Linked DNA regions of Homo sapiens. The protein of the gene in region 1 purifies or fractionates together with the protein of each later gene. This does not show direct contact. Each region holds a gene or a part of one and is shown on either strand. Other genes may lie near its edges.

What was found. The genes of interacting proteins can lie anywhere in the genome.
Region 2: the proteins of ZNF488 (region 1) and CTH purify together in Homo sapiens (affinity purification with mass spectrometry; 2 studies listed by BioGRID and IntAct, with this or other methods). This does not show direct contact.

What each region holds. Positions count from the first base shown.
Region 1 is NC_000010.11:47,374,286-47,381,317, forward strand, and holds part of ZNF488 (zinc finger protein 488), read right to left. Parts: intron 6,577-7,032; exon of another isoform or gene 5,223-6,576; intron 255-5,222; exon of another isoform or gene 176-254; intron 1-175. UniProt on the Homo sapiens protein: Transcriptional repressor. Plays a role in oligodendrocyte differentiation, together with OLIG2. Mediates Notch signaling-activated formation of oligodendrocyte precursors.
Region 2 is NC_000001.11:70,435,248-70,440,363, forward strand, and holds the end of CTH (cystathionine gamma-lyase), read left to right. Parts: intron 1-3,440; coding exon 3,441-3,579; intron 3,580-3,853; coding exon 3,854-3,880; 3' UTR 3,881-4,604; downstream 4,605-5,116. UniProt on the Homo sapiens protein: Catalyzes the last step in the trans-sulfuration pathway from L-methionine to L-cysteine in a pyridoxal-5'-phosphate (PLP)-dependent manner, which consists on cleaving the L,L-cystathionine molecule into L-cysteine, ammonia and 2-oxobutanoate.

The sequences.
Region 1 (7,032 bases):
CAAAAAATGCAGATCTAATAATCAGCTGTGACACAGCATGATACTTCTGTCAGCCATAGCCATACCCAGACTAAGTTGCTCTTCTAATGTTCATGAATATTCAAATACAAACAGGACTGTGGACTCCTTCTAAAAGAGGTGGATTAATAGGTCCCAGGAGCAGATCCCTGGTTACCTTGACACTCCACAGTGATTTCTCACATCCCTTAGGTTCCAGCAATCAGGGCTTCCCACCTGCAGACAGCAGCCTCTACCTGGGTAGTTTAAACAGAAAGGAACTTATTAAAGGCTATCATGCAGCTCATTAAATCCCTGTGAGAGCCAGAGACCAAGCTTGGGAGCTCTCCAAGGGTCAGGGTAGCCAGAAAAAAAAGCCTAACCATGCCCTGGCACTGTCTAGTAGAAACTGCTGGTACCAGCACCAATCACAAGGGACCAAACTCCTACAAAGTCCACCACAGCCACCCCACAAGTCCAGATGTCCCTGCCACCGTGAGTGACAGATATCACCTGCATGCCAAAGACTTCAGCTCATGGGACTCGACTGCACATCCGGGGCTGGGTGATGTATCTGGCTGCTTGTGAGGATCTGTGTCAAAGGCCTGCACCCTGGCTGCAAAAGAGTCTGGGAAACATGGATTTAGCTTCCCAACCTCTGCAGTGCAGGAAAGCCAAGTGAGATGGGGTTAGAAACAGTTGTTGACTGAACCAATGACAGTATCTGTTACTGTGGCACTTAATAAAGCTCACCCCCTGACGAAACTGAGTGGACACAGCCACGCAATTCTGTCTGAAGGTTTTCGTCTCTGCCTGCAACTTGATTTTCTTGGTATGCAGCCAGTGGTGTGCTGGAGCCAGCTCACAGTGGCTTGTGAGATGATCAGGAATGTTTCAAGTTAGCTGTTTTAACTCAGACATTATTCAAAACTAAACTATACAAACTTACAGTCAAAGAAGTTATATTAAAAACACAGGCAATACATACTCAGAACCCATCATTTCCTAGTCATTCTACTACACATTCCCATTGCCTACGCTGTGGACGCTGCTCCACCTGCCGGTGCGGGGGCTTGCCACGGTCCACTCCTCCTCATGCCACATCCAGGGATATCGTGAGTGGCCAGAAATCAGGGAATCAGCCAGAATGGGATTATTTATGGAAATGCTATAAATCAAGGCTTGATTTCTTGTTTTGTTCATTGTCTGGACTTAAGAAAGTAATGGAAAAAAATTGTCAATAATGCAGATTAAACTGAAATTTTTGTCTTGTCGATAGCTGTTATATTGTGAATAGCTCACAAAAAGCTGAGGGACTATTCTTCTAGTATTCCGAAACTATTATGTGATTTAGGAAAGAAGTTATTTAGATCACTGACAAACAAGTGAAGTTCTGACATATGTTCATTGTTCCACTTTCATCTTACACTTTATTGTAAATGAAAATATCACCCAAAATCCATGTTGCAGCTACATGCTGAGAACCAGCTGTTAAACACTTACCACACACCACAGCATGTACCCCATATACTTTCTAATTCTGGGCACCAGAATAATCAGAGAGACCCTCCTGGAAGAGGCAGGAGGCCTCCAAAGGGCAGACAGATACAAAGAAAAGAGAGGGCAGAAAGAACGGCACACGCGAATGCCAGGCAGTGACAAGAGTGGGTTAGACGTAAATCGAGAGTGTTTGTGAGGACTGTTTATGGGTAAGATCACATGGTCTAGCCACAGGGACCCACACCATATCTCTTAGGGGAGACAGTCGTTCTTTTATTCTGTGATAACAGGATGAATAGCATGGAAGTATTGCTCCACATGCAATGAGAGAGAAAAACACCTCTTCGTAACAGGACCTGGGATGGAGACAAGCCCACTTGAGTGGTTTGGGAGAAATGCTTCAAGATCAGGGATGGACCATGGACTGCCTGGGGTGCCTGAGGAATGTCCCATTGAGGAGGTGATATTATCTCTGGGTGTTGATGGATGAATACGAGTTCACCAATCAGGGATGGTAAGATGGCACAGGCAAAGTCCTAGTGGAAAAGAAGGGCTGGGTATATTTCAATCGTGAGGAAAAGACTGAGGGGCAGGAATTCAGCGAGACAGAGAGGATTCCTGTAAACGACCACTTTTCATTCACACTAAGCCAGGTCAGACCCAATTGTGAAATTCAACCCTGCCGAGGGAGGTATGGGAGAATAAGGAGAGAGAGTTAGAGTGGGAGCCAGGAATTTGCCCAGCTCTTTGCTCTGAAGAGCTCTGGGCTCCTTGACATCCATTTGCACTCATATCCTCCAAGAAGGGTGTACTCCCACCGTGCAAAGTCAGAGAACTCCCCACCCCATCCTCCTTCTCCCCCAGCCCTAGCACAAATGGAGGGGCTGAGGCAGTCACACTATGCCCAGCCTTCCAGACCACCAGATCCAGCAGAATGGGGGCTCAAGCCTGAGGGTCCTCACTGGTTCCCGTGCAGACACCTACAGAGGAGCCTGTGGCCAAACTCACACTCAGAGACATGAAATTATAGATGTCCTCCAGTGGAAATTATAACCCAGTGCTATTTCCCTCCAGAGCTTGCAGCTCTACCCTTGTGTGCAGACTTGAGGTGACCCTCAAGAAGCAGCCCAGAAAGCAAAACAACTGGGCTGCATCTGCGAGCTGCTCACACCAAAACACCGTCAGGGCTGCCATGCTGACTCGGGTTGCAGAGACCACCTTCAGCAGCCTGCCTGGCCATAGTCAGTGTTGCCGCTATCACCTACTGGACTGTTGGTCCCTGGGGAGAGACAGCCTGTGTTTGATCTATCTCTGCAACCCCCGCAGGGCATCTCAGGAAGAGTGGGGTGGACTGCAGGGTCCCCCTTTGCCCCAGGTTTTTAAACCAGCTGACAGGAAAGGAGGAATACGCGATCTCTACGACAAGAGCAGTCAGATGGCTTGGTTCTGTTTTATGCTACTCAGCATCCTTCCTAACCAAACCCAGTTTCAGTTTGAGAAGCTGCTTATGTGTGCCTGGTACTGGAACTCTCTGAATAGCTCAATCCCGGTCTTTTTTGAGCTTATTTCTCCAGTTCTTCCTCTGACACTGTGATCTACCTGCCACCATAACCTTCTAATTAATTCCTTCTTCACAAAGTTGGCCAGAGTCCATCGCTGTGGTTTGCATCCAAAGAATCCTGATTGCTATGGATGTGACAACTCACCTCAGCTCAGAGCACTATACCTCCAGGACTCTCTCACAGAACAATAACAATCAAACACAGACACTCACACACACACACAGCTGCCACCCAGAGATGCCGGCAATAACAATCTCACACACACACACACACACACACACACACACACACACATGGCTGCCACCCAGAGGAGCCAGCAATAACAATCACACACACACACACACACACACACACACACACACACACACACACACGGCTGCCACCCGGAGGCGCCGGCTCAGCCCTGCCCCTGCACCTGTCAGCATCTAGCAGCAGCTGCCACATTCACAGAGCACACAGGGCTTCTGCCTGCCAGCTCTGACTTAATTCGACTGTGTTTGCACCCTGGTTGAGGGCAGTTTTCCTTCCTTGCTGGTTGCCATACTCATTTTTTCTCCTGACCCTCAGGAGTGCCAGGCCACTTCAGGCACCTGGGGACAGGGGATCTGTAGGCATAGGTGCACAGAAGGACAAAAGTTGGAGCAATGCACATGCAGGCTTGGCAGGATGGGTCTGGCTGTGCCTGGCCCCCACCCCCACACTAAGGGGCTGCCACCCCACCACCTGGCCCTGCCCCTAGAGAGAGCATGTGTAACCTCATCTCCACTCGCCAGAAGTGCTCACTCTTGGTTCTCCCCACACATGGATCCACTCGCTTCTCTGCTCCCCTGGCAGAGCTTCGCGAACTGCCTGCCTGTGCCAAACTGGACCTCCATGGATGGACCAGCTTTCAGCCTCACCCTGGAAGTGCCCACGGTGTGGAAGGGAAGACATGCACTGACCACATGTAAAGGTGGCACCCATGGGGAGGTGGTATCAGCCCTGCTGGGATGCCTTCATCCCTACCCGCTCTCACCAGCCCCACCCTCAAGTTCTGGAAACTAGAACTCAAGCTCTTCAAGTGCCCCCTCCACTGGTGAGAGGTACTGGCAGAACCAGACTCCACTCAGCATTCCAGAATTCTCATCCTTAGAAAATATTTATCCCAGGGCTCAGGGAGAATCTAGGAGTGGATGAGAGCCTCCATGGCTTGCTATGCATAAATATAGCCTGGGCCAAATCAGCTTCTTCCTCTCCCTGCTTCCCGCCCAGCCATGAAAGGATGTACCTGCGTCCAGCCACTTCCTGCAGGAGCTCTCAAGGAGATGAGACAGAGAGCCCAACCCTCTCATGGAGTGAAAGCATGGGATAAATCAGAGAGAAAGCAAGAAAAGTGAACATAAAACCTCACGTTCCCTTTTGTCACAAGCTTTTGACTAGCTCCTGTGGAACATCGCCACCCCGCCTTGCCCTGCAGACCACCCCGTGTGACTTCATGAAGAGGACGCAAACCACGTGGTGCAGCAGGCTCCACACCACTCCTGATGCCCTTTTTGAGTGGATTCCTCAGAGGGGGTGCCTGACGTCAGAGGTGAATGTCGGCCAGTGTCTCCCAAAGAGGCAGAGGCAGAAACATCACTCCTCTCTGTGTTCCCGAGCAAAGCACTCAACCTCTCTGAGCCTCAGGTTTCCATCTGTAAAATGCGCTCTGGCTAAGCTGTCTCTCCAGGCCATCCCAGACCTACTCATGTATGACTAATTGGAAGAAACCAGTTCTCCTTTACAGCAGGATGGAACATTTGCTATCAGGATGCTTCAGGGTATCAGAATAGAAGTTACCATTTATCGGCTACGTAAGTATCTACATGACAAACAATAGTATTAACAAATGAAATAAGGCACCTTGTTCATTTCATTTTCATAAAAACCATATGAGGGAAGCTATGTGTCTCAATTCAGATGCACTTATCTCCAATCTGCCAAATGCCATCCCGATAAACTCAGGGCAGCATCTCAGCTTTCAGAGACCACTGTGGATCCTGACACCGCCAACTGCTGAATTAAATATCCCACCCAGCTTCACACTCCATCAATGTTAACATCCAGATCTTAATAAGAAGGAGCAGGAGGATGGAGAAAATGAGGAGATGAAACTAGGAACTAGCTGGGGACCTTTCATCCCACCTGGGACCCTGGAGGGTCACCGCTGTCGCATGCATCAGCACTGCATGGAGTAAGGTCAGTAAGGCCAGGGCACAGCACGTCCTCCAGAACCCCAACAGAACAAGGGCCAGACCGAAGACCTGCAAGGTGGAAAATGACGTGAGGCTGGCATGACTTGTCCCCAGGGAGCCCCCGCCAGCTCCTCATGCACGTCTCTCCTTTGCCCACAGACTCACAGCCTTCTTCTTAGTCTAGGATCTTTCCCAGGGCCAACATCAGATTTGAGTCTCTTCCACCTCCGGGCTTCATTTCCAACACCTCTCAGACAGCACCTCAGATGGGGGTATCTCATTCCAGGTCATGCTATACCCTGGCCAGGGCATTCTCTTGGTCAGAGCCCTGAGCACACACACTGCAGCCCACGCTACGTGGCTCCTGCTTTCCTCCGGGAACCTGCCTGCGCCCTTTGCACCTGCAGATCCTCCTCTGTCCAGACCGCTGTGGGCACAGTGGAGCTGTGCCTTCCTCCCCTTCACAGACACCAGCTGCCCTAGACGGCGATGGATCTATGAAGCCCTTGTTCTCCTTGCTCCGAACATGATATGAAAAGATGCTTTGTGGTCGTCAGCTCTCCTCAGTAGGTTCAGTTCACACCCGGGCTCTCACCCCCTGACACTCTTTACTGGCCCTCGTCACTCTGTCATTGTGAGTGTCCTGGGAAGGGCTCCTCTTGTTCTCCTTGGCTCTTGTCCCTCTGACCTCAGCAAGACATCTTTCTGAGCCACACAGATGTCTCTCATTGCCACCCCATGTCTTTCCTACTTGAAAAAAACAGATTTAATTCCAGGACTCACCCACCACTTTCAGAGCCCTCAGATCACGTGAATCACAGAAATCAAGTGATGATCTTTGAAACTTTCTGAAACTGAGCTCCCCAAGTCTACAGGGGATCTAACCATGCCTGGCCTTCCCCACCAACACAGAGCACATCTCCCAAAGGCTTCCAACCAACCTGGGCCATCAACCAGGGTCCCCTGTTGCCCAACTCAGCAAGTGCTGCATCCTGGGAGATGAAGCCTCGCCCACCCCACAGTGTTAAGAGCTTGTGGTTCTCGGTTTATCACCCATCCTCTGGTGACTGCACACTGATCATTCACTCATCTGGGAACCACTGGCCACATTCTCCCACATTATCACCTTGACCAGGTTGTCTCAGGTAACCTTCGAGCCTTCCATCCAAATAGATGTTAAGTGCACGGGCTCCACGGTTGGAGGCCAGCTCTGCTGTATCCAACCTGTGACCTTGGGCAAGGCGTGGGTCCCCTCCAGGCCTGTTTTCTGATCTATAAAGAGGGTCACCTTGGTGTTTTCTTCACTGGGTTGTGGGAAAGATTAGAAGGATTAATATAGAGAAAGTGCTAAGGAACCTGGCTCAGTAAACATTAGGGGTATCACTTCTTATCGCACTGAGTGCAAAGGGACAGAGTCCACTCCATGGCAGCCTTCCCATTACTCCTGAGCTCTCAGGGACCAGTGCATAACAGTGTTTAATAAATGACCAAACAGCCTGGGCATTTTTCTCCTTCCTGCTCCACCTACAGAAGAAAGAACTCTTGGCAAACATCTGGATAACCTCTTTTTCCTGGGATGTCTGAAGTCACTCCCTAACCCAAGCCAACTGGCCAGCCTCAAGCTGTTCTGAGCTGCAGGTCAGGCACCAGATCTTATTCAGAGACACCATGTACCCCCACCCGCTCCCCCCAAGCAGTGCTTTGCTGCATCTGCTTTTCTCTTCAGTTAAAACACACAAGAGCAGAAAATACCTCCTGTC
Region 2 (5,116 bases), on another chromosome or scaffold:
ATAAGGTCAGGGATAATTCAAGATATTTAACAATAAGAATAGCAGGACATTAATCAGAATGGACTCTAACCCTGTCAAGATGGAGACCCTGATAAAATCTCATGGAGGGCTTCTTGTTAGTGAGCGGTGTCCTCCCAAATGTTGCTTCCTTCCCTGCTCTGTCAAAAAGAGATTCCAGCAGTAACTGTATTCTAGGATCTCTGATCTCTGACCTCTAAGCAAGGGCCACATGTTCTACCCTACTCAGCCTTAGAGGGGATTGGAGACTTTGTACTAGAAAAGCTGTTTTCAAGGCTCTTTGGGAAACAGAAAATGTGTCTCTGATGAAACTCCTCCATGCCCTTGATTGTTGGAGAACAGCCCTACTAGATACTGTCAAATCTTTTGTTTTCTGTTCTCTGTAGGATAAACCTTTAATGTCTTCATGTTGTGTACAAGATAAATCCAAACCCTAACTTGGTACCAGGCCCTTCAGTATCTAACCCAATCAATTCATCTAGTTTTTTCAAAGCATCAGAGGATATTGGTACAAGAAGCAGTCTAAGATCATACAGTCCAGCAGCTTATTTTACAGGCAAGGAAACAAAGATCCAGAAAGTTGAGCTGATTGACTCAAGTGTCACACAGGAACGTGTTCGCAGCTTCACTCTTGGATTTGCATCAGAAACAGTGAGGGGAGGTAAAAGGTGCTTGGATCTAGATTTGAGATCTGCTTCCACCAATTAGTTAACCTTTAAACTTCCATTTTTTAACACATAAAATGAGATTAATAATTAATGATTTTCGGCCTGGTGCAATGGCTGACGCCTGCAATTCCAGTACTTTGGGAGGCCGAGGTGGGCCACTTGAGGTCAGGAGTTCAAGACCAGCCTGGCCAACATGGTGAAACCCTGTCTCTCCTAAAAAAAAAAAAAATTATCCGAGTGTGGTGGTGTACACCTATAATCCCAGTTACTTGGGTGGCTAAGGCACGAGAATCGCTTGAACCCAAGTGATGGAGGTTGCAGTGAGCCGAGGTTGCAGCAAGCCAAGATCGCACCACTGCACTCCAGCCTGGGTGATGCAGCGAGACTCTGTCTCAAAAAAGAACCAAAACAACAACAAAAAATTAATGATTATCATTTATTGATTACCTGTCCCCCCAAGCATTCCTGATATATATATTACCTTTATTATATGCTACTATGACCATATGTTGTAATTACTGCAGGGTTAAGTCAACATCATAACCTAACTATTTTTAACTGTACTAAATGTATACGGTGTATTTCTGTGTCTTCATTTTTATAAACATTTATGGAATAACTTGTTTTGCAAGCATTGTGTGGAGAAATGTCAGGTCCCACCAAAGTTTAGGCCTATTTTCTGTCTTTGTATAGGAGTTTACAGTTAGACCAAAAGTCAGGCAGTCTCACCAAGTTAAAAAAAAAAAAAAGATGTCTAAATAATGACTTGAAATAATTCATGTAACGCAGATTTTTGTTAGTCTTTCCGGAAGATGCCTGCTAGTAAGTTTGGATGCACAAGAGGGCACACTCAGCATGTGAAATGGGTTTGTTTTTCACAGTAATGAAATGTGTATTACGTTAAGACTCTCTTGTTTAAAAAATTGTCTTAAAATAAATCTCTCCTGATTTATTTAGGGATTTTTGTTTAAAGTTGCTTGGCCCCCAGACACTCTGGTTTAGGCTATAACCCCGATGCCAGAGGATGAGTGGATTTAGGTCAGGGCTTGTCTGTTCTATCACCCTTCATTCTGTGTCTCCCAACTCTGCTGCTACTAGTGCAGCATTGCAATATGGGAGGAAGGAAGTGAAGCTAATGTGTATTAGCTTAGTCTCCCAGCCTCACAACACATGTAACTCTGTGACCTTAGAAAAGTTACTCATCCTCCCTAAATCTCAATTTCCTCAATTTTAAAATGTGGACAACACTCTACATAGCTCTTAGGTTTGTTGCGAGAACATGGGGAAAAAAATCCCTAAGCTAATGCCTTCGTTCATACTAAGTACCCAATAAACGTTAGCACCTACTATGAACTATTATCTTTTATTAGACATCTCTACTACATTCCAAGTGCTTAGAAGTGCTTTATACATGTTCCTTCAAATTAATGTCTGTGACAAACCTTTAAGACAGGTGTTATATCCAATTTTTATTCATTAAAAAAATGAATTAATGCACACAAACCACCTAGTAGAGTATCTGTCTCATGGTAAGCACACAGTAGATGCATCTATTATTATTTCAGATAAGGAAATAGGCACTGAGGATGAGTAACTTTTATAAGGCCACATAGGCAGTATGTGGAAGGGCTAAGATTCATACCCAAGTTTGTTGGTCTCTGAGACCTGAGTTCTTATTTCTACATGTACACACTCTTTTAAGGAATTACGAGTCTCCCAGGGCAGAACATTTTAAGATGGATGTTTGTATCTAAACAACACTTTAGTAAAGTGACAAAGGAAGATATCCATCACTCAGACCACAGCTGAGATTTTTTTTTCCCCATGGCTCTCATGTAAGAGAGGAGAAAGCAGCTTAGGTATTGATTTTGCTGGTGGTGTGCAGGGAAAGGAAGAGTGTTGGTTGTAATACACATACTGGGGTTAAGTAAGATGCTAAACCTCTCCTCCATTATTCTTCACAGAAATTTCTCCTTCCCTGGAACTTGGCAGTCTTTTTGTCTATACTTGTTTGGCATTGTTTATATAGACTATTTTGTTTTGTGAATTGTCATCGCTTTTACCTCCTGCTTTGTTATTTAGGTTAAAGAAAATATCTCATTCTTCTTGGTTTCCCAATTTTTACTGCAGTGCTTGACATATTATGGGTGGTTTTCCTTTACATCTGTTGATGATGGTAATGGGCTGCTAGATCGTTTGAAAAATCCTTCCAGGCCTCTATGCCAGGAGTTATATTGTGGAATTCTGAATGCTTACTGGTTGCTACTAGTGATTCTTGGTCATCTTTCTCCGATGTGCCTCAGAAGGTCTAGCTCTGGATTGATTCAGAGGAAACTAATTATGACAGGCTCTTGGTCCAAGAGACCTCTTATAAGTAGCAATCCAGTAGGTTGGTCATGGAGTACATGATTTCTGGCCAAACTTCATTTAGGCAGGTATTAAAATATACACATTGGGGAGGCTATGCCTTACCCTACTGCATGGGGGTACTTGACACACACTTTCAGTATTTGGATTGAGCATATCTTACCAATGGTATAAACAGGATAAAAACAATCTTGCTTTTCATTTAAAATCATAGCTAGAAGAGATAAGTTTCGTAATTTTCTCTTTTTTTGCCTGTGAATTATAGGGGTATGCAAAATTTGATATTTGGACCAGAAAAATGTTGAGGGTAATTGCAGTTTATGAGACAGAAACATGCCTCCACTGACACAATATAGTGATCAAAAATTTGCTCATGTCTTCTTTCAGGGCAATCATGACTCATGCATCAGTTCTTAAGAATGACAGAGATGTCCTTGGAATTAGTGACACACTGATTCGACTTTCTGTGGGCTTAGAGGATGAGGAAGACCTACTGGAAGATCTAGATCAAGCTTTGAAGGCAGCAGTAAGTCTTATTATTGTGTGTGTGTGTGTGTGTGTGTGTGTGTCTGCTTTATCTTGGGCATGGGGGGTCACTATATTTACAAAGTGTGGTCTCACTGTGAACTCTAAAGCTTTTCTGTTCCTGTAATAGACCAGGTGTATAAATAAACGTATAGGGAGCTCAGTCAAAGTGCATATTTAAAGGATGGTAGTATTCAGAAAAAGGACTTCTTGAGGAGTTGAAGCTATGGCCTATATGTTTAATAACATATTTTTCTTGTGCACTGTTATTATAGCACCCTCCAAGTGGAAGTCACAGCTAGTATTCCAGAGCTGCTATTAGAAGCTGCTTCCTGTGAAGATCAAATCTTCCTGAGTAATTAAATGGACCAACAATGAGCCTTTGCAAAATTTTCAAGCGGAAATTTTAAGGCACCTCATTATCTTTCATAACTGTAATTTTCTTAGGGATCATCTCTGTTAAAAAGTTTTCTGTATGTCATGTTATAATTACAGGTCAATTCTGTTAATATCTTTTTGTTAATTTTGCTCTATGTTTGCCTCTGAAGGAGGTGAGATTTGTGCTACTTTGGGAGATTATGTTCTTTTTTCATGTCTAAGATTTATTTTGATCATGTTTATAATATAATGGTAATTCATTTTTGATGTTTTGTGAAGAATTTAAATTTAAACGAATGTTCTTAAATCAAGTGTGATTTTTTTGCATATCATTGAAAAGAACATTAAAAGCAATGGTTTACACTTAGTTACCATAAGCCGAAAATCAAATACTTGAAAAGTTTACTGTGAAATTCTACTGATTTAAGACTATACTTAATATTTTTAAAAAAATAAATCAGCTGGGCGCGGTGGCTCACGCATGTAATGCCAGCACTTTTGGAGGATAAGGCGGGCGGATCACGAGGTCAGGAGATTGAGACCATCCTGGCTAGCGCAGTGAAACCCCCATCTCTACTAAAAATGCAAAAAAAATTAGACGGACGTGGTGGCGGGTGCCTGTAGTCCCAGCTACTTGGGAGGCTGAGGCAGGAGAATGGCGTGAAACCAGGAGGAGGAGCTTGCAGTGAGCCGAGATCGTGCCACTGCACTCCAGCCTGGGTGACAGAGCGAGACTCCGTCTCAAAAAAAAAAAAAATCTAATTATCAAATGCATCCCATTGTGATATTCCTACATTATGTGACATTAACCTATATTCCTGGGTCCTTTTAATTCCCAACTACTGCTCTTAGAGGTCTTAGCCTTTTATGTTAATTTTTATAAATTCAATTAAATAAATATTATTCCCAAATCTTAGTGTTTGCAGATTAGTTATAAATCCTATCCAAGGTAGGTTAAAGGCCACCGTTTTACAGATAAATAGTACTTTTTATATTTTTATCTGAAATAGTGCATTTGTTGAGAATAAAAGAAGGTATGTTTAAAAATAGAATCTTTTGGGCCTGGTGGTACGTCCTTGTAGTCCTAGCTACTTGGACAGCTGAGGTGGAGGATCTCCTTGAGCCTAGGAGTTCCAGACTGCACTGGCGTCACTGCACTC